7 linked regions of the Homo sapiens genome follow. The protein of the gene in region 1 purifies or fractionates together with the protein of each later gene. This does not show direct contact. Each region holds a gene or a part of one and is shown on either strand. Other genes may lie near its edges. The genes, in order: BLVRA, OCIAD1, ACTR2, ACTR3, PCYOX1, MAP2K1 and PDK1.

Evidence for each region.
Region 2: the proteins of BLVRA (region 1) and OCIAD1 purify together in Homo sapiens (affinity purification with mass spectrometry, with the first as the bait; one large-scale study listed by BioGRID). This does not show direct contact.
Region 3: the proteins of BLVRA (region 1) and ACTR2 fractionate together in Homo sapiens (co-fractionation; one large-scale study listed by BioGRID). This does not show direct contact.
Region 4: the proteins of BLVRA (region 1) and ACTR3 fractionate together in Homo sapiens (co-fractionation; one large-scale study listed by BioGRID). This does not show direct contact.
Region 5: the proteins of BLVRA (region 1) and PCYOX1 purify together in Homo sapiens (affinity purification with mass spectrometry; 3 studies listed by BioGRID and IntAct, with this or other methods). This does not show direct contact.
Region 6: the proteins of BLVRA (region 1) and MAP2K1 purify together in Homo sapiens (co-immunoprecipitation; one study listed by IntAct). This does not show direct contact.
Region 7: the proteins of BLVRA (region 1) and PDK1 purify together in Homo sapiens (affinity purification with western blotting, with the first as the bait; one study listed by BioGRID). This does not show direct contact.

What each region holds. Positions count from the first base shown.
Region 1 is NC_000007.14:43,785,653-43,789,901, forward strand, and holds part of BLVRA (biliverdin reductase A), read left to right. Parts: intron 1-2,251; coding exon 2,252-2,373; intron 2,374-4,249. UniProt on the Homo sapiens protein: Reduces the gamma-methene bridge of the open tetrapyrrole, biliverdin IXalpha, to bilirubin with the concomitant oxidation of a NADH or NADPH cofactor. Does not reduce bilirubin IXbeta.
Region 2 is NC_000004.12:48,858,376-48,862,624, forward strand, and holds the end of OCIAD1 (OCIA domain-containing protein 1), read left to right. Parts: intron 1-1,781; exon of another isoform or gene 1,782-1,828; intron 1,829-2,349; coding exon 2,350-2,387; 3' UTR 2,388-3,440; downstream 3,441-4,249. UniProt on the Homo sapiens protein: Maintains stem cell potency. Increases STAT3 phosphorylation and controls ERK phosphorylation. May act as a scaffold, increasing STAT3 recruitment onto endosomes. Involved in integrin-mediated cancer cell adhesion and colony formation in ovarian cancer.
Region 3 is NC_000002.12:65,244,490-65,248,738, reverse strand, and holds part of ACTR2 (actin-related protein 2), read right to left. Parts: intron 2,216-4,249; coding exon 2,000-2,215; intron 1-1,999. UniProt on the Homo sapiens protein: ATP-binding component of the Arp2/3 complex, a multiprotein complex that mediates actin polymerization upon stimulation by nucleation-promoting factor (NPF).
Region 4 is NC_000002.12:113,931,201-113,935,449, reverse strand, and holds part of ACTR3 (actin-related protein 3), read right to left. Parts: intron 4,150-4,249; coding exon 4,054-4,149; intron 1,172-4,053; coding exon 1,064-1,171; intron 1-1,063. UniProt on the Homo sapiens protein: ATP-binding component of the Arp2/3 complex, a multiprotein complex that mediates actin polymerization upon stimulation by nucleation-promoting factor (NPF).
Region 5 is NC_000002.12:70,264,267-70,268,515, forward strand, and holds part of PCYOX1 (prenylcysteine oxidase 1 precursor), read left to right. Parts: intron 1-4,249. UniProt on the Homo sapiens protein: Prenylcysteine oxidase that cleaves the thioether bond of prenyl-L-cysteines, such as farnesylcysteine and geranylgeranylcysteine. Only active against free prenylcysteines and not prenylcysteine residues within prenylated proteins or peptides.
Region 6 is NC_000015.10:66,393,412-66,396,911, reverse strand, and holds part of MAP2K1 (dual specificity mitogen-activated protein kinase kinase 1), read right to left. Parts: intron 1-3,500. UniProt on the Homo sapiens protein: Dual specificity protein kinase which acts as an essential component of the MAP kinase signal transduction pathway.
Region 7 is NC_000002.12:172,569,307-172,573,555, forward strand, and holds part of PDK1 ([Pyruvate dehydrogenase (acetyl-transferring)] kinase isozyme 1, mitochondrial isoform 2 precursor), read left to right. Parts: intron 1-1,419; coding exon 1,420-1,518; intron 1,519-4,249. UniProt on the Homo sapiens protein: Kinase that plays a key role in regulation of glucose and fatty acid metabolism and homeostasis via phosphorylation of the pyruvate dehydrogenase subunits PDHA1 and PDHA2.

The sequences.
Region 1 (4,249 bases):
CTGCAGGCTGACAGAGGCTGAGATCCTTTCCAGACGTCTTGGCTTCTGGGCAAGTTCTGGAGAATCTCTCGCTTCAATATTGAATTGTATAACAACAGTACAAGGTCTAGGAGAAAAGAAATGGAAGTGTACTGTTGTCAGGTTCTTTATAGTATATGTGGAATAGTGCATAATATTACTTTAAAGTAGACTGTGGTAAGTAAAATATATAATATAAAATCCTTAACTTCTGAAAAAGAGTTATAGCTAATAGCCAACAAATGGGATAAAATGGAATCATAATAAATATTCTAATTAATCCAAAATAAGGCAGGAAAAGAGGGGAAAAAGAACAGATTGAACAAATAGCAGGATTTCTATAGAATTTGAATGGAAACCCAACCATATCAATAATCACAATGTAAATTGTCTAAACGTTTCAACTAAAAGGCAGAGATTGTTAGACTGAGTAAAAAAAAGCAAGACCTAACTATATGCTGCCTATAAGAAACTAACTATAGCTATGAAAACACATATAGATTAAATGTGAAAGGTTGGGGAAAAAATGTATTATGCAACACTGATCAACAGAAATTGGGAATGGATTGTTAATATCAGACAAAATAAATTATAGGGCAAAAAATATTACCAGGAATAAAAATGGTCATTTTAGAAAGATAAAGGGGTCAATTAAAAAAAAGGACATAACCATCCTAAACTTGTATGTATCTAATAACAGAGTTTTGAAATATGTGGGTCAAAACTGATAGAACTGAAAGGAGAAATACACAGTTATATACAATTATATTCAGAGATTTCTCTACCCTCAATAATTGCTAGAGCAAGGAGACAGAAAATCAGGAAGGATACGAAGACCTGAACAACACAATCAACCAACTTGATCTAACAGACTTATAGAACACTCCACCCAACAATAGCAGAATACACATTCTTTTCAAGTGTGCCCAGAACATTAACCAAGGTAGACCACATCCCGTATCATAAAATATCTCAATAAATCTAAAAGGATTCAAATCATTTAAAGAATGTTCTCTGACCACAGTGGGATTAAATGAGAAATCAATAATAGAAAAACATTTGGCAAATCCCCAAACATTTGGAAGAAATCCTGGAAGGAGAAGACAAGAGCAGTGGGCACAGGAAGAGGGGCAGAGTCAGTGGGAAGTGGTGACAACTGGGTACAGAGGTGAAGAAAAGGGGCAAATCTGAGATGACATTCATGTTTCTATGCTCAGAGGCATCCAAGAAGTGAGTTTAAGGGATGCATGGAGATAATTTTTTTTTTTTTGAGATAGAGTCTCACTCTGTCACCCAGGCTGGAGTGCAGTGGCGCTATCTTGGGTCACTGCAATCTCCGCCTCCCAGGTTCAAGCAATTCTCCTGCCTCGGCCTCCTAAGTAGCTGGGATTACAGGCGCCTGCCAACAGGCCCAGCTAATTTTTGTATTTTTAGTAGAGACGAGGTTTCTCCATGTTGGCCAGGCTGGTCTGGAACTCCTGACCTCAAGTGATCCACCTGCCTCGGCCTCCCAAAGTGCTGGGATTACAGGCGTGAGCCACCGTGCCCAGTGCATGGAGATAAATTTTATCAGTTTTTATTATACTGAGTTGCTGTATAACTTAAAAGTCAGTTTGATTTTTCACTGTAATACTGTTCACATACAGCCTCCAGCAGTGCACTTAAATAATATTTAAGATACTGCAGTATCTTAAATGTGGAACTCAGAAGGCTGTAGTGAAGAGTCAAAGCCTCTGGATCCCACGCTGAGTAAGGTGACCAATCATGGTTTGCCCATTTGCCTCCTCTGCCAGCATCTGATGAAGAAGCTGTGCCCTCTGAATGACTCCCAGTAGTATCAGATTCATGTGTCCACTGGAGGAGGGACCCAGGGAGGGCAGAAGTACCAGGCCATGGGCTGGGTCTGGGTTAATGGGGAAAGCTCCCTCATTATTGGAGATGGGGCAGTAGAAGTGGAGAGCCAAATTGGGGGAACACTTTCTGTGGGTACTCGGAAGGTTTTCAACCTAAAGACATGGTGGAGCACCTTCAAGAACAGGTTTTGGCGGGACTGACTTCTCTCCAAGCCCCCATTTCGGGGACTGTCTCATCCCATCCTGATGCTGTGGCTTCCTGTGTGTTTTGGGCTGGCTTCCATCTTGCTCGTCGGGACCCTGCCAGCTCCTTTGTTTTGTAGTTTTCTGCTCGATGCCTACAGTGTTTTCAGACTCCACCTTGGTCCCTTGTGTTTCAGCCCGAGAGGAAGTTTGGCGTGGTGGTGGTTGGTGTTGGCCGAGCCGGCTCCGTGCGGATGAGGGACTTGCGGAATCCACACCCTTCCTCAGCGTTCCTGAACCTGATTGGCTTCGTGTCGAGGTGGCTCACAATGTCTTTGTGCTTCATAATTCATGGAAAGCCCAGTGAGGCGGATTAGCTGCAGGACATGGAGATTTTCCAGACCCAGGGCAGGGAGAGCCATCTCCCAACTGAGAACTGTGCTTAGGGTCAGCCCCATAAGATCTCAGGTTGGGATGGGTCTGGGAACTGAAGCTTGCTGGGCCTGCAGCTGGGATGCACAGTAGGTTGGCCTGGGAGACTGGAAGACAGAGGCAGGAGGGTGAGCTCAAGGCTGACAGTTAGAGAAGGGGCACAGAAAACACATGCATGGGGCTTTGGCCTGAAAGGCTTTCGGTGTGCACCGGGGAATCCTGACATAGTCATCATGACAGCCATCCTAGGTGGTCCTGGGCTCTACATGTGATATTTCCTTCTGCGTAGTGTTATTAACCCCCCAGTTTACAGATAAGGAGGCTGAACCACAGAAAGGTTAAGTAATCTGCCTGAGGTCACACAGCTGGAAAGTCTAAGAACTGAAGTTGAGCAGAAGTCTGTTTCCAAAGCCCATCTTTTAAACACCATGTGTTCTTTTGCCATTGGTAATTTTGAGCCTCACTTTTATTATTATTATTATTTTTTTTGAGACAGAGTCTCACTCTGTCACCCAAGCTGCAGCGCAATGGTGCAATCACAGCGCACTGCAGCCTTGACCGTCTGGGCTCAAGTGATCCTCCCGCCTCACAGCTCAAGTGGTCCTCCTGCCTCAGCCTTCTGAGTAGCTGGGACTACAGACACACACACCACCACGCCTGGATAATTTTTTTTTTTTTTTTGTAGAGACAGGGTCTCCCTATGTTGCCTAGACTGGTCTCAAACTCCTGGGGTCAAGTGATCCTCCTGCCTCGGCCTCCCAAAGTGCTGAGATTATAGGCGTGAGCCAGTGCACCCAGCCTCCCCCTTTTCTTTAAGGATTCATTTATCTCCAGTCAAAATCAAACTTATCACCTTGTTTCTTCTTCCCCCATGCTCAAATTTTCCACTCACCCCTGTACACACACACACACACACGCACCACTCACCAGACTAATCCTGTATAACATCATTTGTCAATATTAATTGTGAACTAGATACAGGCACCAGACTAATCCTGTGTAACATCATTTATCCATATTAATTTTGGACTAGGTGCAGGCACTGGGCTGGGCCTGAAGACATGGTAGTGAGCAAGTTAGGCAACTCTTTTTCTAGTGCTTTAGAGACATCAGATAAATATTTACACAAAGCATAAGTAACAATTGTGATAGTCTATGTAGAAATTTTTTCATGTTTTCATTCATGGGGCCATCCTCTTCCGGCCTGTCTCAAAACATGGCCCCACTTTTAAGGATTTAAAATGGGCTTGGAAGCACCAGGGAGACCCAGAAGTGCTAGAATCTGCCCTTGGGCCAGCCTTCTCCTCCCCATAAGATTCCAAGGGAGCTGCACACAAATGGGAGAGCAAAGTTAAGATCAGGCAGCACCGTAACCCCCATCGCACCCCTATCTGGAGCTGGGACCACACACAGCACTTGGGCGCAAGGCTGAAATGGGACCTTTCCTTTTCCCTTAAGCCCCAGTCCTCTGCCAGTTGGCTTCCAGGGTCAGCTCAGTGGGAACACCTACACTACCCAGGTTGTATGGGAGGATGGCCAGGTCACACCCCTGCATGACAGCCCTGCCAGTACTCACACTGTTTCCCTCTTCACATACCCTTCCCTTCCTGACCTACCTGCTAAGTTCTACCTCCTCCCCAGGAAGCTTTTCTGGTGTATTCCTTTCCCACCCTGAGTCTCCATCTCCTACTTCCAAGCACCACATTTCTCCTGGTAGTCTTGTGGTAGTGGTATGTACGTGTGTGTGTGTGTGTGTGTGTGTG
Region 2 (4,249 bases), on another chromosome or scaffold:
TGGCCTAACCACAGAATGATTGAGTAATGAGATTGATTTTCTTGTACATTTGGGTTTTTCTCGTGTTTTTTTGTTCTGTTTGTTTGTTTTTTCTTTTTGAGATGGTTTTATTCTGTCACCCAGGCTGGAGTGCAGTGGTGTAATCATGGCTTACTGCAGTCTTGACCTCCTGGGTTCAAGCAGTCCTCCTACCTCAGCTTCCTGAGTAGCTGGGACTACAGTTGTATGCCACCATCCCTGGCTGTTAAAAATTTTTTTTGGTGCAGTGGGTTTTTCCCTATGTTGCCAAGGCTGGTCTCAAACTCCTGGGCTCAACCAGTCCTTTCACCTTGGCCTCCCAGAATGCTGGGATTATAGGTGGGAGCCACTGTGCCTGACCTTTCTTGTACATTTGTGAATTTGAAAGAGTTATATGCCAGCTTCTAAGGCATTTCTTAAAGATGAATTTTTAAATCCTGGTTTCTTTTAAGTCTTTTTGGAATAGCTATACATTAGCCAAAGTAAATTTTTTGATACAAGTTTACCTCTAAAGGAAGAGGACATTCGAATAGGGTTTTATAGCTATTTCAGTATAGGGTTTTATGATTTTCTCTTAAGGAATTTCAGAGTATGTGTCATTGTTTCAAGATTTTCTATTTACTACTTTAAAAATGGAAATAATAGGTCTTTGGTACCTTCTTGAAGGTCATATGCCACAAAGAATGCAAAAATACATGAAAGTCCTTAGTATTTGTTGTTATGGTCATTTTTTAGAGCTAATTTTATTTTTAATCATTAGCGGTTGCTTCGTTTGGAGTTCTGTTTTTATAACAATGATAGATAATATCTGCATCATATTATTGATGTAAAAAAAATCTACCTTTGAAATGAATTAGGGATGTACCATACTTTTGAATGTTTGTCATCAAACAACATTTAGCATAAACTGCATCTAGTGGCCATTGCTCTGTAATATGTAAAGACTTGTCGGTACTTTGTCCTGCTAATTAATTTGAGGATTTAGATTGTAAGCTCTGTGAGGGCAGAAAGTAATATTTTTCTCATTTTTGTAATCTTTTCTATTATTGTCTGCATAGCATAGTACTTTACACTGTATCAGAAATTGAGTATTTTGGTTTAGGCTTCTATGGTAATAGAGGTTAAGAAAGGAAATTTGGTAGACCTTTAACATTTGCTGGATTTTGACATTTTTGATTTTTGACTGAAGTCTTCAAGTTCTGTTACATGACACAAGAATGTGAAATGATTTTTTCTTTTTTTGGGAAAAGCTGGTTTTTTGTGTGCTTTATATAATTTAAAGAAAAGACTTGTTATGAAATAGTTTCAGTCATTTTCTGAATTATTGTTGAAATTAGTACAGGGTAGATTCACATGGTCAGAAAGTGTCACTTAAAGTTTTCACCTTTAGCTTATGTGGTTGATATTTATCTAATTAGAAATTAAGACCCAGAAATTTAAAAAATTCAAGCACATATTCCATTAGCTGCCAGAGCAATGTCACCACACATCCTGTAGCTTCTAGAAAACCATGTAACATATACTCATGAGGGAATGAGAGCAAGGGGAAAAGGCAAAATGTGAAACATAAGGATATATAATGTCTTAGTATAATAATGAAATAATTTTGACTTCATGTATTCCCTGAAGAGTCCACACTGTGATAACTGCTGCTTTATATTGTTATGATTACTCACAGACAGAAGCTATGTGGAAGAGAAGCAAAAAAGTAAAGGAGTAGAATAGACAGCGGAGCATGTTTTAAAATGTAAAATATAGAGTACCTGTAAAATGTAGTAGTATTTTCTTCTTATAGTAGTATTTACAGCCCTGAGAGAGAAGATTGAATTAATTACAACTTGAACACTTGACCATTTCTACTGCTGTATTTTTTGTGAAAAACGAAAATTCAAATGTTTGTTTTATTATTTCCCACTATTTTTTTTTTTTTTTGTATATGGCTTAATATGTGCCACACTTAGGTAGTATGGTAAAGATGTAAAGGTACCTAGGCTTTGGATCTAAACAGACCTATACTCAAATCTCAGTTCTTGTTAGGGCTTGTACCTTGGGCAAGTTACTAATCTTTTTTCTCACCATTAAAATGAGAATTGTGTTTAGAAGTTTGTTATGAGGACTAACTATTTATGTAAAATTCTAGATACAATGCATTTGTCCAACCCCAAGTTCACAAAAGTCTGGTCATCCCCTTTTTGTAATTATAATTTGACTCTCATGTGCTTTTATTCAAATGAGAGAGAAACATAACTTTTCATCATAGCAACAAACTTAAAATAATGTCTTTTACTTATTATTGCTTGGAATCATCAATTATTTATGCTTTTTTCCTAGTCAAAGTAAACAAGTATGGAGATACTTGGGATGAGTGAAAAATTACATCATTGGACATGAAGGAGTTTCAACATCCAGCTTCATCTAGGTGGTCATGATTACCTGCATGCTTTGAGCTCAGCAGCAGTCTTCATAAACACATTTAAAACAAGATCCTGGGTTTTTGTGGTTTGACTTCTATGGTGTTTTAAAAAAACACAGATTTTTAGTGTTAATATTGTGTAAATGTACTCACCTTAGGGATTCATTTGAATGATGGTATTATACCATGATTGTATACAGTTTGTGAAATTGTTGCAAGGGCAAAGATAACTCTTAAAAAACCGTCGAGATTACAATGCTCTAGAATCAGCATATAAGAAAATAAATGATATCTGCATGTTGAATTGGGGTGGATGGGGGGAGCAAGCATAATTTTTAAGTGTGAAGCTTTGCATCAAGAAATTATTAAAAAGCTTTTTTTCTCCAGTATTTTCTGTATTATCTTAATGTTTATGGCAAATAAAATGTAAAGGAACATGCAACAGCCCTCATCTTCCTTGATTTTATGGTTTTATTGTTTGTAATTTATTGATTTATTTTTAAGCTAGTTATAATCATGTAGGTATAGGAAATAAAGTCATCTATAATATTTCTATAATATGGCTATAATATGGCTATAAATCTATAATATGGCTGGAGGCAGTGGGCAGTGGTTCATGCCTGTAATCCCAGCACTTTGGGAGGCCGAAGTGGGAGGATTGCATGAGTCCAGGAGTTTGAGACCAGCCTGGGCAACAAAGCGAGACCCTGTCTTTACAAAAAAATAAAAATTAGCTGGCGATGGTGTCGTGTGCCTGTAGTCCTAGTTACTTAAGAGGCTGAGTTGGGAGGATCAGTTGAACCCAGTGGTTCTGGGTTGCAGTGAGCTGTGGTCACACCACTGAACTCCAGCCTGTGCGACTGAGTGAGACCCTGTGTCTAAAAAAATAAAAATATAATGAATGTGATTTATGTAGATAAATTGATAATATAGTAAATAGGTAAATGCCTTAAAAAGCATTTTTAAAGAATTTGTAAATTCTAAAACAATAAAAATTTGGTATACATCACAGAGACTGATATTATGTTAAAAAGAAAAATTGGTGTACAGTGACCCTTCGTATCTGTGGGTTCCGTATCTGCAGATTCAATCAACTGCAGATTGAAAATATTTGAGGGAGAGAAATGGATGGTTGTCTGTACTGAACTCTTGTTATTCCCAAACAATACATTGTAATAACTATTTACATAGCATTTACATTAGGCATTACAAGTAATCTATAAATGACTTAAAGTATATAGGAGGATGTGCATTGGTTATATGTAAATACTACACCATTTTATAGTGGACGTTAGGAACCTGGACCAATAGACCCCCACCTAGTCACATTTTAGAAAGAACACATGGGATGGGAGATACCGCAGCCATCTTTCAGTCTATCATTTGGCAGCTGTAATTCACATCCCTTTCCTGAGGACCTCTGTTTCCTATGCCATTACAAAAGCTCAAAGTCTAGGAGCTGATCATCTAATCAGGATAAGGTATGGATGAGGCTCCTTGGGTAAAGCTTCATGAATAAAAGCGTCATGAATACCATTTCTCTGTCTGAAGGCCTGAACTTAAGAACTTATCTGCTTTGTTCACCTGTTAGGCATAACATCACTACTCTGGAGATTCCCATTCAAAAAGAGAAAAGGAAAGGCTTGGCTTGCAATTCTGAAGTCTAGCCAGCCTAATGTGGCTGTTCTTTGGGGCCTAGGTATATTCCCTGGGGGTTGTTCTCTGGTGCTTTTGACCCTGCCCTCTGATTTTTCCTTTTCTATTGAGGCACTTGTGTTTGCAGCTGAGTAGTTTTTTTTGTTTGTTTTTTAAAGCCTA
Region 3 (4,249 bases), on another chromosome or scaffold:
AACGTTTTCAATCTCCTTCTGCTGGCTCCTCCTATCTCTCTGGTCCTTGGCCTTTTCACCACTGTCTACCCTCTTCTTTGTTGAACCGTATCATTTATAGCCCTACCTTCAAAACAGACCTATAATCTGGTAATTTCTCACTATCTCTACTACTACTACTTCAATCCTAACCATCATTATCTTTTGCTTAAATGACTGAAAAAGTCTCCAACTCTTCTATCTTTGCCTCCTTGTGGGATACTCACAACACAAGAGAAATCTAAATCTGAGCATCTCCTTTTCCTGTAACAGCCCCATATTTCACCCACAGTAAAAGCCCAATTCCCTTTTTTTCTTTTTGAGACTGAGTCTCACCCTGTCGCCCAGGCTGGAATGCAGTGGTGTAATCTCGGCTCACTGCAGCATCTGCCTCCTGGGTTCAAGCGATTCTCCTGCCCCAGCCTCCCAAGTAGCTGGGATTACAGGCACGCACCACTATGCCCAGTTAATTTTTGTATTTTTAGTAGAGATGGCGTTTCACTATGTTGGTCAGGCTGGTCTCGAACTCTTGACCTCGTGATCCGCCCACCTCGGCCTCCCAGAAGTGCTGGGATTACAGGCCTGAACCACCACTTCCAGCCGCCCAATTCCTAATTAGAGCCTACAAGGCACCAATATTACTTACTCGACCTCATCTTCTGTTGCTCTCTCCTCAACCACACTGGCTTCCTTGCTTATTCTTTAATATACCAAGCTTGTTCCTAACTTAAGACCTTTACACTGGCTACTCCCTTTATCTGGAATACCATTCTCCTATATACCCTGGCTAACTCACTTACCCTGTCTGTTTAAACATCACCTTCTCACAACCTATGTACAATTACAACCTCCCACTCCCCGTTAACCTGATTTATTTTGCCTTTAGCATCTACAGCTGATCCATGAATAACAACAAGTTTGAACCACACAGGTCCACTTATACACGATTTTTGTCAATAAATCTTTCCTGCCTCCCCTTGCACCTCTTCTGTCTCTGCCACCCGAGACAGCAAGACCAACCCCTCCTCTTCTTCGTCGGTGTGAAGACAATGACGATGAAGATCTTTATGATGATCTACATCCACTTAAGGTATAGTAAATGTATTTTCTCTTATGATTTTTTATTTTTTTTTGAGACGGAGTCTCGCTCTGTCGCCCAGGCTGGAGTGCAGTGGCACGATCTCCACTCACTGCAAGCTCTGCCTCAAGGGTTCACGTCATTCTCCTGCCTCAGCCTCCTGAGTAGCTGGGACTACAGGCACCCGCCACCACGCCCGGCTAATTTTTTGTATTTTTAGTAGAGACGGAGTTTCACTGTGTTAGCCAGGATGGTCTCGATCTCCTGACCTTGTGATCTGCCCGCCTCCGCCTCCCAAAGTGCTGAGATTACAGGCGTGAGCCACCGCGCCCGGCCATGATTTTCTTAACAGTATTTCCTCTAGCTTACTTTATTGTTAAGAATATAGTATATAATACATATTATGTTATCAGTAAGGCTTCTGGTCAACAGTAGGCTATTAGAAGTTAAGTATTTTGGGTGGTAGTTAAGTTTGCACGTGAGTAGGGAGGGTTGGTGCCCCTAACCCCTGCATTGCTCATGGGTCAACTGGATCACTCACCTTCTAACAAACCATTTAATTAACTCTGTAACTGCTTATTGTATTAGCCTTTTCAGTCTCCTTCTGCTGGCTCCTCCATAAAAACTTAATTAACTTAATTAACTCACTAAATTAAAAACTTAATTTTTTTGGTCTGTTTTTCCCTGTTAGAATATATACACTCCATGGCAGTAGGATTTTTTGTTTACTGATCTATCCTACTTTCCTACTTAGAATAATGACTAGCATATAGTAGATACTTAATAAGATCTGAAGGAAAACAATTATTTTTATTCTCTTTATCCATAGCAACAGTAAGAAAATTTTTGATTTAACATAATATCACAGAAATACACATATGCATATCCTGCATAAAAACTCACCTCTACAATCTTCTCTCTGTTTTTGGTTGGGTTCATAGGAGGTTCTGTGAGTAAGATTTTACAATTTCTGGTATCTATATTAAGTTTCTCTGGTCCAAATGTGTAGTCCCACAGGTGTTTCATGTCATCCCAATTTCGTACTATGCCATTTTCCATAGGGTAGTTAACTTCTAACATTGATCGTAATTCACTTGCCTCATCACCAACCATAAGATCCTAGAAAATTATGTCAAAGCTGTAGATCAAAGTTTTGCATAATATTTAAGAAAACTTGGGAATAATTAATTTTAATATTTCTGACACTTGCAAAATAAATCTTTTTATTCCACAAGTTAGAAAATCTTTTCTATCAAGAACAATGTCTTAGAAAGTTTAATCATGGATAATACATTTTTACATACAATGTGGTTTAAATCAATAAATTGACCTTACCTTTAACACAAATGTTTCCAAAAGAAGAGCATTAGCACAAATAAACCCCACATTTTCATATTTTGGAGGGTTTTGTATGAGGTTTCATCTGTTTCTTTTGCTCAATTGTTCAAAAAATAAGGCCTGTGATATGTGAAATAGCACATCAGGGGGAAAAAAACTTGTAGAAAAATGCTCAATGCATGCAGCACATTTCTTTGCACTAAATATCAAAATGATAAATGTAAGTACTATAAAGCATAATGAAAGAAGCAAAAAATAAAATGATTCTTTATTACTCTATAATAATGCATACATACACCAACTAATAAATAGCACAAACTTCTATCTACATATGCCTGAATAAGAATTTAAACTGTTTCTACATATGCCTCACCAAGGTGAATGAGAATTTGTAGAGTTATAAAAAATTAAGATATAGGCAAATAACCCATCCTTTAAAATTGTCTCCTGAGCAACATTTTCAATCTTAAAGTATACTGGAAAACTACACCATCACACATGAAGCATAATACTCACAAGTCTTGTCTCCAATGAGAGCATACTTAAGATGACCCACATTTGAAAGTCACATTTTCTATATATAATAAGTAAGGATGTCCTAGCATTTAGACTTATTTTTAGAGAACAGCTAGTCAAGAGGTTAAATAATACTAATTTCTACATATGTTGATAAATTCAATTAAAAAAACTAGTATCAGAAGTAGATATTTGCTACAATACGTTAAGTTTTAATTATGGAGAGACAAAAAAAAGCAGCAGCAAAATTAACACGAGATTATTTTTTTGAGACTGAGTCTCGCTCTACTGCCCAGGCTAGAGCGCAGTGGCATGATCTCAGCTCACTACAACCTCTGCCTCCCAGGTTCAAGCGATTCTCCTGCCTCAGCCTCCTGAGTAGCTGGGATTACAGGCACCTGCCACCACGCCTGGCTAATTTTTGTATTTTTAGTAGAGATGGGGTTTCACCATGTTGGCCAAGCTGGTCTCAAACTCCTGACCTCAAGTAATTCACCCATCTCGGCCTCCCAAAGTGTTGGGATTACAGGCATGAGCCACCACACCTGGCCAACATGAGATGTTTTAAAACAAAGGCTTAAAAATATATGAGTTTTAAATTAAAAAAAAAAGAAAAAGAAAATATCAGAGATGAAACCAAGGTGAGGACTCTAACAAAAAACCAAACAGATCTCTGGAAAATCCACTAAAAGCATCAAAAAGTATAACAAAGTTAAAAACAGATGCTAGAAATGCTCAGTAAAAATTTGTTGCAATTTCTTATGAAGTTCATTTACCATAACTTACTAACTTATTACTCAAATATCTGAAATATTAAATGTTTACACTCTTTTTTTTTTTTTTTTTTGAGATGGGGTCTCACTCTGTCACCCAAGCTGGAGTGCAGTGGTGCCATTATTGCTTACCACAGCCTCAACCTCCCCAGGCTCAGGTGATCCTCCCACCTTAGCCTCCCAAGTAGCTGGGACTACAGGCTACATGCCCAGCTAATTCTTGTATTTTTAGTAGAGACAGGGTTTCACCATGTTGCCCAGGCTGGTCTTGAACTCCTGGGCTCAAGGGATCCGCCCACCTCAGCCTCCCAAAGTGCTAGGATTATAGGCATGAATCACCACACCCAACCGTTTAGATTCTTCTATGAGGAATATGCAAAACTAAAAATCTGTATTTGTGAATTCTAGTTAATAACATGCACATGTTGAAGTATTCAGGGAGAAGTATACTGGTATCTGCAACTTACTTTGAAATCCATCAAAAAACAAGATGCACTGATGAATGAACAGATGAACAGATATGTAA
Region 4 (4,249 bases), on another chromosome or scaffold:
CCATTTACATAAAATGGCCAGGACAGGCAAATCTAACACAGACAAAAAGTAGATTCGTGGTTGCCAGGGGCTGAAGGAATCAAGGGGAAATGGGTGGTGACTGTTAATAGTTACAGGGTTCCTTTGTAGGGTGATGAAAATGTTCTAAAATTGTGGGGACGGATGGACTTTGTGAATATACTAAAAATCAATGAACTGTACACTCTAAAGAAGTGAATTGTATGGTATATGAATTTTATCTTAAGCTATCGTTAAACAATGGCAGTTATTACTAAAACCATTATGACATATCATGAGGGTGAAAGTGGTGGAGGACCAGGAGTCTAATCCAAAGGTAGTCACCCTGAGGATGTAATCTTTAACAGACATTGCCTGATGCATTAAACACTGGAGTGAGAATAAAAAAAAAAAAAAGTTCAAAATAATGTAAATCCTTAAGTGATATTCATTATAATATAAAAATTACTTTAAAAGATAAACCTTTCTCTATATACCCATTTAATAATAAACAGTATGAATTCTAGTAGTCATTTTGAATTCATTAGGCATAATTTTTTTAAAACTTGATGTATCATTAAGAACTGAAGCACAACGGCCTTGGAAGAAAAATGTTATTTCTGACAATCTAATTTGATGCATTTTTCTTAATATGCTTTATTAAGTACAAACCATAAAGCATCTACTAAAGTTCAGGTACTTAAAACTAACTGTTATACAGTTACCCTGTACACCAGTCTGAAATCTGTTAATTATGAATAAAAGAGGTCATCAAATGGCTAACACACATCCAACTGGAAAACAGAATGAAAGCCATTAATATACTTCCATTCCAGATATTGCAATTTGTAATTTTCTTAATTGCAGTACAAACCTACAGTAAAAGAAACATTTTGAATTGTTTATAAAAGTTTTAAACGGTGAGCAAAACATAGCTATAACTGGACAAATGGCCAAATTATAGTGCAGCATTTAAAGTTTTTTAAAAGTAACATTAATTCGTATAATTTAACTTTGCCAGATGTGTTATTTCATGTTCTGTTCAGTAACTGTAAAATAGCCTTACCACAGGAATGACATGAGTGACACCATCTCCACTGTCTATTACCGTACCGGTCAACGTCCGTTCTCCTACTTGTCTTGAGGTCCAAGATGCAGCTAAGGCAAGAACAGCCTTGAGCACAAAGAAAGAAGAAAGGCAAAAAAACAAAAAAAAAAAACAAAAAAACAAAGAGTTAATCGAAAAAAAAAAAACTAGTTCCCTGGAGTACTTTATTCAATTTTAAATGTAGTATCTGTGGAAAGAAAATACATAAAATTAATTTTGTATTATGCAATAAAATAGCTCACTCCCTACATTTTATTAAGACAAACTTAGAGGTTTACATTTGCTTTTAGGAGCATGATTTGTAAGATTTACATATTTTATAAAGGCTATTTCTGTCCTAAAGCTAAAAATGTGGAAGATTGCATTAAACAGTACAGAACTAACTGTCTGTAATCCCAGCACTTTGGGAGGCCGAGGCGGGCAGATCACGAGGTCAGGAGATCGAGACCTTCCTGGCTAACACGGGGAAACCCCGTCTCTACTAAAAAATACAAAAACTTAGCCAGGTGCGGTGGCGGGCGCCTGTAGTCCCAGCTACTCAGGAGGCTGAGGCAGGAGAATGGCGTGAACCCGGGAGGCGGAGCTTGCAATGAGCCGAGATCATGCCACTGTACTCCAGACTGAGCGACAGAGCAAGACTCCATCTCAAAAAAAAAAAAAAAAAAAATTGTATAGAACTAACTTGCCAGAACTTAAACTATGTCCACGTGGGCTGGCCTGTTACAAACTGCAATGTAAGGCAGAAAGTACACAACCACCCTACCTCCAGTTATTCAATACATATATGGCTATAAACAACTATTACTAAAAGATTACCTTCTTTTTCTTTTTTTCTTTGAGACAGAGTTTCTTTCTGTCACCCAGGCTGGAATGCAGTGGCACGATCTCGGCTCACCGCAATCTCCGCCTCTTGGGTTCAAGCAATTCTCTGCCTCAGCCTCCGGAGTAGCTGGGATTACAGGTGCCCACCACCACACCCGGCTAATTTTTGTATTTTCAGTAGAGACGGGGTTTCACCATCTCAGCCAGGCTGATCTTGAACTCCTGACCTTGTGATTCACCTGCCTCAGCCTGCCAAAGTGCTGGGATTATAGGCATGAGCCACTGTGCCAGGCCTACCTTCAAATTTTTTTAAGGTAACATGTGTTTAGGACTATATGACATACAGAAAACGCCATCGCACACCTCCAAATACTACTATGATTTAATTATGGAGCAACGTTGATAAAATTTTTCTATGAAAAACCTTGGTACAGACAATACAACACAATTCTTTTTTAAGTGTGAGAATTAAGAAATTAACATAGTTCATTTTTTAAAAAACTAAATTTCTTACAATCCAAGCCTCAAACAAAGTATATGACTAGTAATTAAAAACAACTAAACTTATACTGGACTTATTTTACCTACCTGGACTGTAATAGCTAAAAGGGACCTAGAAAGCTATCTAGGTCACCCTCCTATCTGAACACAAGATCATATTAACACAATCACCACATAATCACTATAGGCTAACAGAACTATACATTATTTTTTGACAATCTTAAAATGAAAAATTCCATCCTAATACTAGTTATATATATATATACTGTTTAGACTTCATTATGAGATATCCTTCCTCTATAAGTAAGTTCAAAACTATCATCTACAACCAAGAATTATCTCTGATCACTTTTACAAGTCTTTTGTAAACAGTTACGGTCCCAAACTAGAATAGATATGTATCAGCACATCATGTTACAGAAATGTTATTGACTACTGAACATCAACAAAACAGAACAGAGATTAAATAATGAAATTAAGAGCACTCAGAGGCCACTAAGGAAATCACTGAAAAACCAAATTACGACTCCAGAGGAATGAAACAAAGCTCATGATGCCAGTGTTTTAAAGTAAGCTTTACCTGACAATATGGTTAAACATAAGTTTATTATATTTAACATAGGATGAGAAGCAAAAACTCCCAAGTGAAAGATGAATTTTCCCAACTCCTCATTTTATTCATATTCTAAGAACTAAAAAAGGGCCTCCCACTCAAGACTGAATTCTTCTATAAAGTTCATGACAGGTTTAAGTGACTCCTTAAATATTTTTAGCAGCAGAGAATTTAAAAGGCAGTTCATTAAATTTATGGATTGCATTAAACATTAAAAAGTTCTTTGCTATCCAAGTTAAAATATTCATCCATAATTATCACTTATTGATTCTGTGTACCGTGGAGTTACAAAAACCAGTGTGATCCCAAGAAAGAGCAAAGTCAGACAGACCTCAGCTGCCTGGTATCACAGCTAACCATTTAATTATGAATAAAGTGCCTTCCAGCTTTAGTTTTCTTCCTCCACAAAAAACAGAAACAAAAATATCTACATTTAATAGAAATAATGAATTAATACACATATAAAGCATTTGTGTTATGTCAGGGATTACCTCTGCTACAAGGGAAAAAAAAAAAAAATGAGGTCAGCTCTGATCCTGAGGGGTGGGAGAGAAGCTGTTCCATACAGATAAACGTACAAATTAAGAGAAGTGAAATATTAGGGTGTCAAATATACCTAAAGATAAGTCAATCAAAAAAGACTACAATAAAGGACAAAAAGATTTATAAGGATAAATGATAAAGGATTATTTACAAGGATAAATATATATACAATGTTCTTGTCACAGAGAAAGCATTCCATAAATATTAGTTCCTTCATTTCTGTCCTATGAAAGCCCTTGAAATACCCAAACACCACTAACTTACTTTTTTAACACTTCTCTTTTCCTGACTAAATATCTCCACTTCCCATAATATTACTTCTAAATTAACAATTCAGGAGAGAAGTATAACATGCTTTGACATTATGTTTAAACCTTTGCAGAAAAAAAAAAAAAGTACGTATTTTAGGCAGCAAATTAAACTAGGTTAAAATGTAAGAATCAAACTTAGAAAGTATGAACTTGCTTACCTGCACAGCAATGTACAAGCCTGGAACATTGAAGGACTCAAACATTATTTCAGCAGTATATTCCCTGTTTTCTGGAGTATTCAATGGAGGTTCAGTCTATTGAAATAAATAACATTTTAAATAGATAATATCAGATTATTTTGATAACTTTCTTGACAATTTTTAAATGAGAAGTAATTTATTTCAAACATTTTAT
Region 5 (4,249 bases), on another chromosome or scaffold:
GTTTTTTTTTTTATCTGTGGCTTGCTTGAGATGTAGAGAATTGCCCTTTGAGAAATTAAGAAATTACTTTTTTTTTTTTGAGATGAGTTTCACTCTGTCACCCAGGCTGGAGTGCAGTGGTGCAATCTCGGCTCACTGCAACCTCTGCCTCCTGAGTCCAAGCGATTCTCCTGCCTCAGCCTCCTGAGTAGCTGGGATTACAGGCATGTGCCACCATACCCAGATAATTTTTTTATTTTTAGTAGAGATGGGGTTTTACCATGTTGGCTAGGCTGGTCTCAAACTCCTGGCCTTAATTGATCTGCCCGCCTTGGCCTCCTAAAGTGCTGCGATTACAGGCATGAGCCACCGCACCTGGCCTAAGAAATCACTTTTGAAGTGAATTCAAGGTATTACAGAACTGGGAAAAAGAACCAGTGAGGGGATACATAGGTTATACTGTTTTTGACTTTAAAAAATAATTTACGGGCCGGGCGCGGTGGCACACGCCTGTAATCCCAGCACTTTGGGAGGCCAAGGCAGATAGATCTTGAGGTCAGGAGTTCGAGACCAGCCTGGCCAACATGGTGAAACTCCGCCTTGCTAAAAATACAAAAATTAGCTGGGTGTGGAGGCGCAGCTAATGCCAGCTACTTGGGAGGCTGAGGCAGTAGAATCGCTTGAACCCAGGAAGCGGAGGTTGTGGTGAGCCAAGATCAAAGTATACACAAGGTGGAGAAAGACCTATGTAACAGTAGTAAACCATGACACTCGAAAGAGGGCTCAAGCTTGTGGTAGGCAATACTCGAAAACAGTGCATTCATTCATTCTCTGCTGTTGGAGGTACTTGAGTGGAAATCCTGCAGCCCCTGACATCAGCACTAGCTAGCTTAATTTCCACTTCTGCACATACATTTATGTAGTTGTTCTGGTTGGATGCCATTCTTAACTAATTTTTTTTTTTTTTTTTTTTTTGAGACCAAGTCTTGCTCCGTCACCCAGGCTGGAGTACGGTGGTGCAATCACAGCTCACTGCAGCTTTGACCTCCTGGTCTCAAGTCATCTTCCAGCCTCAGCTGGGACTATAGGCATGTGCCATCATGCTTGGCTAATTTTTTAAATTTTTGTAGAGACAGGGTGTTGCCATGTTGCCCAAGCTGATCTTGAACTCCTGGGCTCAAGTGATCCTCCCACCTTGGCCTCCCAAAGTGTTGGGATTACAGGCGTGAGCCACCGCGCTCAGCCGGATGCCATTCTTTACTCCCAAGTCCAACCTCTTATCTCACTTTTTCAGCAAAGCATTTCCTTAATGCTTCAATCAACATTCATCTTTCTTTTCAAACATCCCTTATTATACGGTGCACACTGTGTGCTTGTGTTCTATGCTACGCACAGTAACTAGAATGTAGTAGATGTTTACTCAGATGTTTGTGGAATTTAAATCTCTGGTCTGCTGATGGCTTCCTGTTGAGATATCTTGGCTTGTAGACTAGGTTAAAGCTTATTCTTCTCTCTCAAGTTAGTGCATTTCTGGGGACTTGTAAGATCCTTAACACTTCTTGATCTGAGACTGATAGACTCACAGGGAAAGGCTTTATAAACACCCTTTCTTCCTTCCAGTTACTCCTACCAAATATTTTGAGTCAATTTTTGTTCTTTCATTTCCCAAACCCACTCTATCTTGAATCCCATCAGCCTTTAAAATACATCCAGTATTCCACTACTTCTCTCCAGGATTACTGCTACCACTTTGTTCCAAGTCACCACCACTGTCTCTTGTCTGGATTGCTAGAGTAGCCTCCTATTATAGGCTGAATAATCCTCTCCCCTGCTGTCTGCCACAAGATGTCCATGTCTTAATTCCTGGAACCTGTGAATGTGTTACCTTTTGAGGTAAAAGAGACGTTGCAGATATGGTTAAGGATGGGTAGATTATTCTGGATTATCTAGGTGGGCCCAATATAATCACAAGGGTCCTTAGAGAGGCAGGAGGATCAGGGTAGGTAGTAGGAGATGTGATGATGGAAGGAAGAGATTGGAGTGATGCTAGGAAGGGGTGTGCGTCCACGAGCCAAGGAATGCAGGTGGCCTGTAGAGGCTGGAAAAGACAGTCTTCCCTCAGAGCTTCTAGAAGGAACCAGCCTTGTGCACACCTTGATTTTAGCCCGGAGAGACTGACTTTGGTCTTCTAATTTACAGAACCGTAAGATTATAACTTTTTTTTTTTTTGTTAGTATTTATTAATCATTCTTGGGTGTTCTTCGGAGAGGGGGATTTGGCAGGGTCATAGGACAATAGTGGAGGGAAGGTCAGCGGATAAACATGTGAACAAAGGTCTCTGGTTTTCCTAGGCAGAGGGCCCTGCCGCCTTCCGCAGTGTTTGTGTCCCTGGGTACTTGAGATTAGGGAGTGGTGATGACTCTTAACGAGTATGCTGCCTTCAAGCATCTGTTTAACAAAGCACATCTTGCACCGCCCTTAATCCATTTAACCCTTAGTGGACACAGCACATGTTTCAGAGAGCATGGGGTTGGGGGTAAGGTCATAGATAAACAGCATTCCAAGGCAGAAGAATTTCTCTTACTACAGAACAAAATGGAGTCTCCTATGTCCACCTCTTTCTACACAGACACAGTAACAATCCGATCTCTCCTTCCTTTCCCCACATTTCCCCCACTTCTATTCGACAAAACTGCCATCGTCATCATGGCCCGTTCTCAATGAGCTATTGGGTACACCTCCCAGACGGGGTGGCGGCTGGGCAGAGGGGCTCCTCACTTCCCAGACAGGGCGGCTGCTGGGCGGAGGGGCTCCTCACTTCTCAGAGAGGGCGGCTGGTCAGAGAGGCTCCTCACCTCCCAGACGGGATGGCGGCGGGGCAGAGACACTCCTCAGTTCCCAGACGGCGTCGCGGCCGGGCAGAGGCGCTCTTCACATCTCAGACGGGGCGGCGGGGCAGAGGCGCTCCCCACATCCCAGACGATGGGCAGCCGGGCAGAGACGCTCCTCACTTCCTAGACGGGATGACGGCCGGGAAGAGGCGCTCCTCACTTCCCAGACTGGGCGGCCGGGCAGAGGAGTTCCTCACATCCCAGACGATGGGCGGCCAGGCAAAGACACTCCTCACTTCCTAGACGGGGTGGCGGCTGGGCAGAGGCTGCAATCTCAGCACTTTTGGGAGGTCAAGGCAGGCGGCTGGGAGGTGGAGGTTGTAGCGAGCCGAGATCACGCCACTGCACTCCAGCCTGGGCAACATTGAGCACTGAGTGAGCGACACTCCGTCTGCAATCCTGGCACCTCGGGAGGCCGAGGCTGGCAGATCACTCATGGTCAGGAACTGGAGACCAGCCCGGCCAACACGGTGAAACCCCGTCTCCACCAAAAAATACGAAAACCAGTCAGGCGTGGCGGCGCGCGCCTGCAATCCCAGGCACTTGGCAGGCTGAAGCAGGAGAATCAGGCAGGGAGGTTGCAGTGAGTCGAGATGGCAGCAGTACAGTCCAGCCTTGGCTCGGCATCAGAGGGAGACCGTGGAGAGGGAGAGGGGGAGGGGGAGGGGGAGAGGGAGAGCTGTTTTTTGTTTTGAGACAGAGTCTTGCTCTGTCACCCAGGCTGGAGTGCAGTGGCACAATCTTGGCTCACTGCAGCCTCCGCCTCCTGGGTTCAAGCAGTTCTCTGCCTCAGCCTCCCGAGTAGTTGGGATCACAGGCGCCCACCACCATGCCCGGCTAATTTTTGTATTTTTAGTAGAGATGGGGTTTCACCATCTTGGCCAGGCAGGTCTTGCACTCCTGACCTCGTGATCCACCCGCCTCAGCCTCCCAAAGTGCTGGGATTACAGGTGTGAGCCACTGCACCCGGCCGTAAATTTGTGTTGTTTTAAGCCACTAAGTTTGTGGTAATTTGTTATAGCAGCAGTGGAAAACCAAGACACCTCCTAAATCATCTGCCATTACTGTTATATTGCTACCATTTGTTCTCAGGTTAGCAGCCAAAGTAGTTCTTTAAAATCTAAGGCTCATCACATCACTCCACTAACTCAGAAACCTTCAGTGGCTATTTCATTAATAGAGATTTATAGCCAAAATCTGTTTTGTGACTGAGAAGACATGACAGGATTCTGTGCTCTCATCCCTTACTTTTAAATTTGTTTTCCCCAAAATTCATAGGTTGAAACACTAGCCACCCAGTACTCAGAATGTGACTGCATATGTATGTAGGGCCTTTAAATATGTGATTAAGTTAAAATGAGGTCTTTAGCGTAGACCCT
Region 6 (3,500 bases), on another chromosome or scaffold:
GGAGTTCAAGACCAGCCTGGCCAACATGGTGAAACCCTGCCTCTACTAAAAATACAAAAATTAGCTGGGAGTGGTGGTGTGCGCCTATAATCATAGCTACTTGGGAGGCTGAGGCAGGAGAATCGCTTGAACCCAGGAGGCAGAGGTTGCAGTGAGCCGAGATCACGCCATTGCACTCCAGCTTGGGCAACAAGAGCAAAACTCTGTCTCAAAAAAAGAAAAAAGAACTATTATAACTAAGTAGGGAGTGATGTAACTGAGCATGGCATGGAGTTGCTCAGAAAAGACTACACACATTGGAGATAAGCTTTATGTAAGATCTTGAAAGATCGGTACCATCCGGGGCAGATACGGTGTCTCACGCCTGTAATCCCAGCACCTTGTGGGGCTGAGGCAGGCATATCACCTGAGGTCAGGAGTTCGAGACCAGCCTGACCAACATGGTGAAATCCTGTCTCTACTAAAAATAAAAAAATTAGCCGGCCATGGTGGTGTGTGCCTGTTATCATAGCTACTTGGGAGGCCGAGGCAGGAAAATGTGGGAGGCGGAGGTGGCCGTGAGCCAAGATCATGCCACTGCACTCCAGCCTGGATGAGAAGAGTGAAACTCCATCTCAAAAAAACAAAAGGGCCGGGCACGGTGACTCACACCTGTAATCCCAGCACTTTGGGAGGCCGAGGAGGGCGGATCACGACATCGAGGCCATCATTTTTAAATTTTGTACTAAAAATACAAAAATTAGCCAGATGTGGTGGCGCATACCTGTAGCCCAGCTACTTGGGAGGCTGAGGCAGGAGAATCGCTTGAACCCGGGAGGCATAGGTTGCACTGAGGCGAGATCGCGCCACTGCACTCCAGTCTGGGGACAGAGTGAGACTCATCTCCAAAAACAAAACAAAACAAAAAAGATGGGTACCATTTATTTTATTCTAGGCCCCACAGCAGACGGTGGAGAAATACCAGTACACAAGACAATCACAGTCCCTGTTTTCACAGAAGTTAAAGTGTAGTGGCAAGTATAAAACAAAAATAAAAACATGCAAGAGGGCCAGGCGCCTGTAATCCCAGCAGTTTGGGAGGCTGAGGCAGTGGATCACCTGAGGTCAGGGGTTCGAGACCAGGCTGGGCAACATGGTGAGACGCCGTCTCTACTAAAAATAACAAGAATTAGCCCGGCGTGGTGGTGTGCGCCTGTAATCCCAGCTACTCGGGAGGCTGAGGCACGATACTCACTTGAGCCCAGTGGGCAGAGGTTGCAGTGAGCCAAGATCATGTGACTGCACACTCTAGCCTGGGTGACAGAGTGAGACTCCGTCTCAAAAAAAAAAAAAAAAAAATCATGCAAGAAAGTGGAGGAGGGCATTTCAGACAAAAAAAAAAACCATGTCAGCAAGACCAGACAGATGTAAGAAGGTAAGCAACAGTATGCTGGTGGCACAGTGAGGAGAGTAAAGAAAGTGGTAAGTGGACCACAGCAGGTGAACGGAAAAACAGAGGAAAATTAAGCTAGATAGGCAAGGCAGGGCCAACAGCTACAGGAGTACCCACTTAAATGTAGTTTTGCTTTGACAATTCCAGTTACCCACAGTGAGTACAGTAACCACATTCATGTAACTGTCATTACAATATATTGTTATAATTCTTTTTTATTGGTTATTATTGTTAATCTCTTACTATGCCTAATTTATAAATTAAACTTCATCATAGGCATATACTGCATAGGAAAAAACACAGTATATGCAGGGTTTGGTACTATTGATATCTGTGGTTTCAGGCATCCACTAGGGGTCTTGGAACATATGCCACTCAGATAAGGGAGGACTACTGTACTCTACCACAGTATCTTCTTCCTTTCTTTGAAAGGTGCATAAATAAGTGAAACTGGAATTCTGTGAGTGTTTATATTCAAACAAGAGTCCCATATATTTCCTTGCCATGGGCTAAATCATCTTTAAGACTTTCTTTGCTATTACTGTATCTGCTGTAACAGCGGCAGAGATGTTCTTCCCAAAGACACAGGCTTAAGCAGGCCTTTTTCACATGAAGCTGTTCTGAAAGACAGCACCAGTATTAGTTACTGCATCAACTACCCAAAAGAAGCATCCAAGTTCAAAACTACAAAATCAGTGTGAAACCACTTCAAAAGCTCCTACTTATCAGGCCAGACATGGTGGCTCATGCCTGTAAACCCAGCACTTTTGGGAGGCCAAGGAGGGAGGATTGCATGAGGCAAGGAGTTTGAGCCCAGCCTGGGCAATACAGCAAGACCCTATCTCTAAATTTTAAAATTAGCCAGGCATGGTGGTACATGCCGGTAGTACTAGCTACTTAGGAGGCTGAAGCAGGAGGATTCCCTGAACCCAGGAGTTCAAGGTTATAGTGAGCACCAATGCACTCCAGCCTGAGTGTCTGAGCAAGACCCTGTCTCTCAAAAAAAAAAAAAAAAAAAAAGTTCCTGGTTATCATCATGGTACACATCTCAGAAAGAGCCATAAGAGACAAAAAAAAGCACATCAACCTGTCTCAACCTTTCTTCCTCCAGGGCCTTCACACTCTAACAGATGTGTGTTCCTTACAAACCTGGCAGAACTGCTGATGCTATGAACTACACCCTGAATGCAATAAGTAAGTCTGAGTGTTTCAGGGTTACATAGAAACAATTCAAAATCCAAAATCATGAACGCTACTAAGGCCAAGCAGTGAACCCTCCTAAGGTTATTCGGCACCTTATAGCCTTCAAAGAAATTTTATACATCTTCAAAGGTATTCCTCTGAGGTAGGATCTAGTCAATCATTTAATCAACAGGTATCTACTGAGTATTTTCTATGTGCCAGAATCTGTTCTACACACTGAGCAATGAACAAGGCAAAGCCCCAACCATCATGAAGCTTACACTTGGGGTGGCAGAAGAAGATAAATACTTATACACGATGTAACATCAGTTAGTGATCAGCGCTACAAAGAAAAATAAGGCAAAATCAAAGGGTAGAAAATGACAGGGAGTTCTGTATTACAGTGATCAAAGATGGCCTCTGTGAAGAGACATTTCAACAGAGGGGTGAAGGAAGTGAGGAAGCAAGTCATACGGTATTTGAGAGACAAGCTTTCCAGGCAGCAGGAATGGCAAATGCAAAGATTCTAAGATAAGAATGTGCCCAACCTACAACCCAACAGCACAAAGGACAGTGTGGCTAGAGTGCATGAGTGAAGAGAACACTGGAAGAAAACTAAGGACCTGGTCAGGTAGGGCCTTGTAGGCCACCATGGTAAAGATTTTGTAAACAATTATCACCTCCACTTTACAGATTAAGGAAACCAAGAGTCAGAAAGTAGAAAGGACTTGCCCAAGGTCAAAGAAAAAGTGAGATCTTGAGAGGTACCCTGCCTCACTACTGCAACTGGATTAACGGTATTGTTTTAAAGAAAGAGATTAATAGCCGGTGCGGTGGTTCACACCTGTAATCCCAGCACTTTGGGAGGCCAAGGAGGGCAGATCAC
Region 7 (4,249 bases), on another chromosome or scaffold:
TGGGAGGGGGAGGTCATTTATATTGACTTACAGGGTTTCTGCTGTAATCTTTGCTCTTTACAACAAAATTTGAAAACAAATTATGCTACTAATATTGAGAGTATCTTTTTTCCCCGCCAATAATACTTGCTGGTTGACAAGAAAATGGGTGAGGAGTGAGGGGCACAGGTCCTGGTGGGTGAAAATGATTGCCCTCTATCAGAAGCTTGTAGTCTCTCTTCAGTTGTGTTTCATCAGCCAGCAGCAAACTAGAGGAAAGAGGGGGTGGCTTTCAATCTGATAATGTAAAGGAAAAGTGCACTGAAACACAGAAAAACTGACCGAATATCTTAGAACAGCAGCAGAATGTTCTTTCTTCCAAGACAGCAAAAATGTATTTAATACCTTACAAAATCTTTTTTAAAATATTTATTTTATTTTTTGTAGAGTTGAGGTCTCACTCTGTTACCCAGGCTGTCCTTGAACTCCTGGCCTCAAGCAGTCCTGCCCCAGAGTGTTGGGATTACAGGCATAAACCACTGCACCTAGCCCTAAAATCTTTTTATCCAAGTAGTTAAACAAGTAGTGATGGGCACTTCAAGCATTAACACGAATTTTTTCCTTGAAATTCCAGTGGCATAAAGATCTTGTGCCCTATGATTGAGGCACTCCGTATTATATTGTACATAATGTCAGTAATAATGGCTTTCACCTGGAACCTAATCTTAACCTGCCTTTGGTGGAAATGATGGAATCTCCTCCATAAGAGGACTCAATCGCAATTGCTGTGCCAGGGCCACACACTCTTACTTCCAAATTCGGATGCCTTTTTAGTTACATCTAGTTTATATCATTTTCTACTGCAATGCTGAATGTCATGATATTGTTTAAGGCTTCTGATATGTTGGCACTGTGTACCCTATTTCCTTTAGAAATTAGTCAAAGCAGCTTTACAATGACAATACCCTTAATTTCAAACTAGAGATAAAGGGATTCATTGCTCCATCAAATACGACCATCGCTGTTACTACTATATGAAAAAAATTGCTTTCCTTTAAAGAAATTTATGACAGTTTTTTAAATAGTTCTAAAAATATAGCTGAAACTACATTTTCAAAAATGTTTTGCCCATCATTTACTAAAATTATAAAAGTGTTTGAACAGAGTTTTCTGCTTTAATGTAACTAGTTAAAAGTGTTTTGAAGTCTGACTTTGGAAAATAAGCAAAATTTAGTTGGAGTCTTTAGGTCAGAATATCCTTCAAATCCCCCCCAAATTGACTCCATTAAAAAAAAAACTTTAAATGTGGTTATAAGAATTGTGATTCTTTGGCATATTTCCATCAAATTTTAAAACTTCAAATAGTGCATATGTACTTGAAAATTACACTTTCTCTTTTCTAAAAAGCTGTATTTTTAATACAACCCTAATGTATTTCAGAATGCAATGAGAGCCACTATGGAACACCATGCCAACAGAGGTGTTTACCCCCCTATTCAAGTTCATGTCACGCTGGGTAATGAGGATTTGACTGTGAAGGTAAATGTGTTTAATGGTTTGTTTTCTTTTTTTTTTTTTTGTAATTGATGAACAGACATGCAAAGGTAACCATACGCATAATTTCTAAAAGACATAATCTACTCTCAGGGGAAAAGAATCTTGTCTGTAATAGATAATAAGCACATTGCTTCATTGAGCTGGTGGATTATAGTTATCCCTTGAGTCTTTTCTATGCAGGTCCCCCGTCGAGGTGATTCAAGTTAAAATAAATCTTGGAGACAGACAATTTATCATTAATATCTCTTTGATAAGTAAGATCTAAAATATTTGGGTAGTTGCAGTATTATGGAGATAGTATTTTATATATAATTTAAAAAATTTTAAAACAGTGCTTTCTAATCTACTGGTTTCATTTGATTCTCATGACGTAGGTAATTTTATCCTCACTTTTACAGGTGTGGAGACTAAGACACAGTGATTAGCTCAGGATCACACAGGGCAGAAATGCTATGGGACATGATATCCAGTCTTCTGTCCCCAGTGCTAGGCCTTTTCTATTACATTGTTCAGGTGGCCCAGTTTCTTCTTTTACATTTTATTAAAAATTGTTTTCTGTCACCCAGGCTGGAGTGCAGTGGTGTGATCATCACTCACTGTGACCTTGAACTCCTGGGCTCAAGCAATCCTCCTCCCATGGCTTCCAGAGTAACTGGGACTGCAGGCTGCAGGCATGCAAGCCTGGCTAATTAAAAGAATTTTTTGGTGGGTAGAGACTAGGTCTCACTTTGTTGCCCAGGCTGATCTCAAAACACCTGGCCTCAAGTGATCCTCCCACCTTGGCCTCCCAAAGCACTAGTATTACAGGTGTGAGCCACTGTGCATGGCTCCAGTTTAAGAGTATGATAGTGTTTTTCTTTTTTAATAATCATTTAAAAATTTATATTAAAGTAATAAATGCAGAGACTATAAAAATTCAAATGTGTCAGTTCCTGGCCCTTTGTAGGCCTCATTACTCAGAGATTCTTAGTCTTTCTTTACTTTTTTTTTTTTTTTTTTTTTTTTTTGAGATGGAGTCTTGCTCTGTTGCCCCAGGGTGGAATGCGGTAGTGTGATCTCGCCCACTGCAACCTCTGCCTCCTGAGTTCAAGTGATTCACCTGCCTCAGCCTCCCGAGTAGCTGGGATAACAGGCACCCGCCACCACGCCTAGCTAATTTTTTGTATTTTAGTAGAGACAGGGTTTCACCATATTGGCCAGGCTGGTCTCGAACTCGACCTCGTGTTATCCGCCTGCCTCGGCCTCCCGAAGTGCTGGGATTACAGGCATGAGCTACTGCACCTGGCCTAATGTTTACATTTTAAACAGTAAATATTACCTTTCTGTTATAGTAGTTGAGGAGTTAGCTCTCTTTAATAGAGCACCTGCTCCCCTCCCCTCCCCTAGCCCAAGGGCCAGTTTCCCTATACTATTATCCCAATATTTAAGTTTGTATATGAAATTCGAAGCTGAGAATAATCATCCTGCAAAATTTTGAAGGCATCCATTGTTCCTTTTTTAAAAAAGGTACAATTCAGTGGAATTCATAAGGTTATTCAAGTATTGCCGCTGTCTCATTTTAGAACATTTTCATCAGTCCTAAGAAAAAACCCAAGTACTCCGTCAGGCACAGCAGCTCATGCCTGTAATCCCAGCACTTTGGGAGGCCAAGTTGGGCAGATTGCCTGAGGTAAGGCGTTTAAGACCAGCCTGGCCAACATGGTGAAACCCCATCTCTACAAAAAATACAAAAAATTAGCTGGGTGTGGTGGCAGGCGCCTGTAATCCCAGCTATTCAGGAGGCTGAGGCACGAGAATCGCTTGAACCCAGCAGCAGAGGGTGCGGTGAGCCAAGATTGCACCACTGCACTCCAGCCTGGGTGACAGATTGAGACTCCATCTGAAAAAAAGAAAAAAAGGAAAATACGCAGTACCTATGAAGTCACTTCCCGTTTTTCTCTCTTCTAGCCCTTGGCAACCACTGATCTATTTTCTGTTTGTGTATTTCTCTTTCTGGGCATTTTATATAAATTTAATCATGCAGTATGTGGTCTTTTGTTACTGACTTCTTTCACTTAGTATAATGTTATAGTATGCATTTGTACTTCATTCCTTTTTATGACCAAATGATATTCTGTTATATGGATATAACACCTTTGGGTTATCCATTCATCAGTTGATAGACATTTGGTTTGTTTCTATTTTTTGGTTATTATAAATAATATGGCTATGAATGTTTGTGTACAAATTATTGTGTGAACATGTGTTTCAGTTATCTTATGTATATACCTAGGAATTGAATTGCTGAATCATAGGAAACTCTGTTTAACTTGAGAAACTGCCAAACTGTTTTCCAAAGGACCTGCACCATTTTGCATTGTCATCAACAATGTGTGAAGGTTCCTGTTTTACCTCGTCCTTGTCAACAATTGTAGTCTGTCTTTTTTATTATAGACATTATTGTGAGTGTGAAGTGGTATCTCAGTGTGGTTTTTATTTGCATTTGTCTAATGACTATGATGTTGAGCATCTTTTCATTTGCTGATCGGCCATTTGTGTATCTTTGAAGAAATGTAGATTAAGATCCTTTTTTCAGTTTTAAAATTGGCTGTCTTTTATTGTTGAGTTGTAACGGTTCTCTCTCATGTATATGTGTATATATATATAGGGATTCTATGTGTGTGTATATATATACACACACATACATATACATATATACATACATATGTGTATA